2 separate regions of the Homo sapiens genome follow, and region 1 is linked to region 2. The links come from fine-mapping of genetic effects on gene expression. Tissue or cell type: whole blood. Region 2 holds a variant in brackets; the other region holds the start of a gene. All regions are shown on one strand. Distances are between the middles of the regions.

Region 1 (2,500 bases), 48 kb after region 2:
AGTTTTGGGTCAAGTATTGCTCCCCCAGCTTACCTCTCCACAAATCACTCTATTTCCTAGCCTGCCCTCCCACTAGGGCGGAGATGCCAGACCCAAGGGTCCAATTATCTGGCACCTCTTAGGAGTACCTCCGGTGCCTCAGGAGGGCCAACCTTCCCTGGCAACAGGCAGGAAAAGTTGAAGGTGGGGGGCAAGATGGGCCGCAATCAATACCTCCCTGCAAACAGGGTCCTCAGAAACAGCATGGGGGGGATGTCACAGGATAGGTAAGAGGCAATGGGCAGCAGGGAAGGGGGGGCAGCCCAAACCAGCCAATCACAACTCTATGGTGACCTGAGGGGGGGGGTCAAAAGTCCAGAGTCACTTCTGATTGGCTAACAACCTGGAATTCTGAGAATTTCAGCCCCCCCCAAACCTCTCCCCAATTAGCCTACCCCCAAAAAAACATACACATAAGCCACCCCCAGCGTCTCCTCCCCGTGTTTCTGGGCTGCTGCGCATTTACACAGTTGGGGAAAACGCTACCCGCCAGCCTGAGGCCCCGCGTAGCCCTTCCAGCCCCCGGCTTCCCCCATGCCATCGACGCCCCCCACACAAGTTCTCGCCAAACACGGGGTGAGGGGTCCGCAGGGACGGCTGGGCAGGAAGGGGCCGAGTGGCCGCACGCCCCACTCACCAGGACAGGCACAGCCCACTGACATCTTCACATCGCCCGCCTCTGGGGGCCCAGCCGAGTCACGGTGCCCGCCCCTCGCGGGGACAGGCCGGGCATGAGCCGCCGCCGCCGCCCGCGGCCCCCGCTGCGCTCGCCGCCGGCCCGGCCCGGCCTCGGCCCGGTGCGGGCGGCCCCTGGCTGCGGCGAGGGGCCTGTCAGGCGCGGAGCAGACAGGAAGGAAGCCAGGCAGGAAGGCGAGCGGCCTCTGCGTGTGTGCGCGCGGGTGTGAGTCCGCGGAGTGTGTGTCCGTGTGTGCGTGTGTGCGCGTGTGCGTGTGCGTGTCTGTGCGCTCCCGCCGCCGTCGCCGAGCGCCCCCCTCTCCGCCCTCGCGCTCGCGCTCCCTCGCGCCGGCGCCGGCTCCCCAGCCCAAGCCGGGCAGGGCCGGGCTTTATTAATATGCTAATTGTCCTGCTAGTGGGAGGGGAGAGCCGTGTCAAAGTGACCCGGGAGAGCGCGCAGCAAGCGACGACGTGCGTGCGCCGCGCGGCGGGCGGGCGGCGAGGGGCTGGGAGCGCTCGGGGAACGGCATGCATGTGACGCAGCTTTTAAAAAAGGAGACGGAGGCAGAGACCCCAGAGAGGGAGGGCGAAGGGGAGGGCTTGGAGGCGCAGCCGCGCGCTCGGTGTCCGTCCTCCGGGTGCCGCCGGATGGGGAGTCTGGCTGAGCCGGAGCGGGAGCCGCGGCTGGGGGAGGCGGAGCCGGGGTGGGCAGTGTGGTGTATCTCTCTCCACCCCGGGCCGCGCTCCGGGAGGGAAAAGGGACTGCAGACCCCCTGTCCGTGCTCCCTGCTGAGACGCCAGCCTTCTTCTGGAGGCCCCTTGTTTCGCGTCCCTACCCTAGGCTGGATGGGTAAAGAAGCATTCTCTTAATTCTTGTAGCAACCCCTCAACTCACCCCTTCCCTAAATTAACCACTCCTCCTTTGCCTGCGAAACCAGTTGGGACTAGAACTAAAAGGGTTAATTAAGTGGGGTCCCCGCCCTCCTCCGCCTAAGGGCTTGGGATCTGTGTTTTGCTGGGGGGAGGGGGCTGCGGAATGACCACCAGATTGGATTACGGAGGGGCGATAGGAGGCCATCCTTCCTTCTTGCAGACTGACGCATCAGTCAAGACACTCTCTTCCCTTCCCCCCTTTCTCCAGCCTTGGTGCCTTCACCTCCGTACCAACCGCCCAACCCCACCGCCTCCGACCCCCCTGCCTGGAAGCTGCTGTCCTTTGAGGGCTTCGGAGATGAGAACAGGAAACAGGCCCCTCCAGTGCCCCCTAACCCAGAGAGGCAGAGGCTGTGGGCCGTGGGGGGTTGGATGGGAGATGATGTGGATGGTCAATGTAAGGAACACTCCTTCCCCTGGGAGGAGCCTCCCAACCTTCAGTCACACTTCAAGGACTCCCCAACCCAGCCCTAGGAGGGGAGGGGCTCCATCTCCATCCCTTCCCAAAAGCTCAGCTTTAGCTGCCTCATAAACAGGAAATACCTATTAGCCAGGAGGAGGGAAGGGAGGGGAGCCGCCTGGAGTAGAGAGTTGACCCCCTCCCTCCTGGGGTCCCCAGCTGCTAGCTTTTCTTTCTTAAGTTTCAGTATGGGCTCCAGGGATAGACGATGGAGACTTGGACTAGTGTCTCCTCCCTAGGGCGTCTGGCCCTGACTGGGTAGGGGGTTCTCCTCTTTGTTACTTAGAGGGGTGTTGGTTGAGAAGGCTGTTTGGTTCCCTCACTCTGGCTCAGAGTCTGCACAGCTGGCTTGACTGGCTGGGGGAGGGTTACAAATGCGGAGGCTTAAAGTGT
Region 2 (2,754 bases):
GTTATTTGTATTTTGGTATCCTCAGCATGTATCACAGTGCCAGGTTCATAGTAGGTTTAATTATTATTGTTATTATTATTATTTTTGAGACAGAGTTTTGCTTTTGTTACCCAGGCTGGAGGGCAATGGTGTGATCTTGGCTCGTCGCAACCTCTGCCTCCCGGGTTCAAGCGATTCTCCTGCCTCAGCCTCCCAAGTAGCTGGGATTACACTCATGCACAACCATGCCTGGCTAATTTTGTATTTTTAGTAGAGACGGGGTTTCTCCATGTTGGTCAGGCTGGTCTCGAACTCCTGACCTCAGGTGATCTGCCTGCCTCGGCCTCCCAGAGTGCTGGGATTACAGGTGTGAGCCACTGCGACCAGCCTAATTATTATTGTGAATGCAGGAACTGACAAGGCCCTATGACCTGGGGTGAAAAGAAGGGATTAAGCTCTGGCCTGTAGAGATTCTCTGGCTCTCTTCCTTTCTTTTCATAAGCCAGACTGACTCTTTGGTTGATCCAGCCCTGAAATTGATGGCAGTAAGTCAGGTGGATCTGAAGGCAGAACCTAGCCACCAAGGACAGTGGCAGGGGTGAAGAAGCCACTGAGCTCGGACCATCTTGGGAGTTGAGGTGGAGGTGAAAGCAATGGACATAACTGGTACTACCCAGTGCCCCCGATCCCCAAACCAGGAGAGTTTGAGAAGGGATAGGAAAGCCTGAGTCAATGAGGTTCCAAGGAAGAGACTGGTGACAGGGGCTAGTGGAAATTGTGGGTTGAGGTCAAAGGTCTGGAAGATCGATCCCTACGTTGAATATGGCCATCCAGGCTGGGCACTGTGGCTCACGCCTATAATCCCAGCACTTTGGGAGGCTGAGGCAGGCAAATAGATTGAGCCCAGGAGTTCAAAACCAGCCTGGGCAACATGGCAAAATCCTGTCTCTACAAAAAAACAAAAAAATTAGCCAGGTATGGTGGCACACGCCTGTCGTCCCAGCTTCTCGGGAGGTTGAGGTGGGAGGATTGCTTGAGCCCAGGAGGTCCAGGCTGCAGTGAGCTGTGATCACACTACTGCACTCCAGTAATAGAGTGAGACCCTGTCTAAATAAATAAATAAATAAATAAATAATAAGGCCCTCCAGGGGCCATGTTCTTCCTAACCTGTCCTTAGGAAGTGTTCACATTGTGTAGATGTAGCAGTTTGGTTCACACTGACCCGGGTAATCAGGAAAAGAGGAGAGCCAGAAAG[G/C]GGGGAGGAAGGAGCTCTAGATTCCCAGGTCTATAAGGAGCCACCCTGGGCTGGAATGCTTGGCAGCCTTACTGCCCCAGAATGAAGGGGAAAAAGTCCTGAGTGGCTCCACTATGCCACCTCAGTCTCTTCTTAGGCACAGGCTCCCCCTGGTGGTTACTCTTGTCACTGCCAACTCCACCCATTGCCCTCAAACATGCACACTTGCCCATTTTTAACTAAGAACTGAGGAAGCCTCTGGATGTAGTAAATGGAGCTTCTCTTAGAGCAAGAGAGGAGAAGAGGGAAGGAGAGATTCAAGGAACAGAATTATGGAGAAGGGAAAGGGCCCTGGACTTGTACTAGGATGGTTATCACCCAGAAGAAAGGGGACCTGGGCTGGCAGGATTCTTCGTCTCCAGGATTGGAAGTCTATTCCAGCTACCAACCTGACTTAGATAATTTGGTCCAACTGGGGAGGAAGTTGAGGGCACACAGCAGAGTTTCCTGGGAGGGCATAGCAAGTTCACATTTTATATGAATTTGAAGTACAGGAAGATGCTGGGACTTTTTCAAAATAAATAAAGTCTCACTTAATGCACGAAATGTGAAATAGAGGTGAGCCCCCCCAATAAAAATATTTTCCAGAATCACAATTTCAGGGCTCACAGACCATGAGAATTATAAGCTTTGCTTACACTATTACTGCATGGGTTCCCATTTCTGCTTTAAATAAAAATTCAGGTGGGGAGAGAGAATGAATCGGGCTGTGAGGTCAGGACTGAGTGCCTAGGGTCACTCCCAGTGGTGGATAGAAGACTTAGAGTGCTTTCTCCTGTAATTCCCAAACAGAGGGCCTGGGCCTGGCTCTGAAGGTCTCTGCACAAGAGCAAGACAGGACAGGAGCAAGAACAAAGGCGAGGAGAGACAGAATCAGAGAGATGAGGAAGAAGATGGGGCTGGACTGGATGCAGAGAATGAAAAGGAGAGACAACAGATGGGCATGGGGAGAGGGGCCTAGGAGGGAGAAACAGGGACATTTGCTCACTCTGGGGAGCAGAGGAGGCTCTCAGGTATGAATGCTGGGAGGATGAAGGAAGGCACAGAGAGAAGGTCCTTTGGGGCCTGTCACCAGAATTATGGCCAATGCATAAAGCCAATGGGGCAGCTGAGCTAGATCTGGTCTTCCAGAAGTTTCCATTATCTAGAGAATAGAGGAAAAGGGAAGGAGCTGTGATTGGCTGAGGAAAGGGGAATGGTGACCTCCACCAAGAAAGTGGAAGACCCATCTCATCCTGGGCCTCCTGGAGGCCCTGGAGGAGCAAACTGTTCAGGCTTTACATAGATTTCAGGTCCTCAGGCTTTGGCAGCCATTTGGATTCCAAGGTGATATGCAGTCATCTCAAATTCTATTATTTTTGTTTTATTCTGGAGAAAAGTAGGGAAGGTGGGCATTGCCCTTATCCCTAACAGCCCCAGGCAAGCTCTAGGAACAGCCCGGAGCCTCAGAATTGAGGGGCAGGCCTTTCCTACAGAGCCCT

The links. PIP is the estimated chance that this variant, and not a neighbour inherited with it, causes the effect.
Region 1: LDB1 starts here. The variant in region 2 is fine-mapped to the expression of LDB1 in whole blood (INTERVAL, PIP 0.97).

Annotation. Positions count from the first base shown.
Region 1 is chr10:102,119,410-102,121,909 of GRCh38, forward strand. It overlaps LDB1 (LIM domain binding 1), which reads right to left and starts at 959. Exons shown (of 11, transcript NM_001113407.3): 1 at 677-959. The coding sequence starts at 701. It also overlaps a transcript of PPRC1 not described here. RefSeq lists silencers at 599-668, 759-838, 899-1,198, 1,219-1,348 and enhancers at 845-1,596, 1,597-2,348, 2,349-2,500.
Region 2 is chr10:102,071,698-102,074,451 of GRCh38, forward strand. No RefSeq gene overlaps it. Among named protein-coding and RNA genes, the nearest start is that of HPS6, 7.7 kb to the left of the region's middle. The variant G/C (reference allele first, on the strand shown) is at 1,235.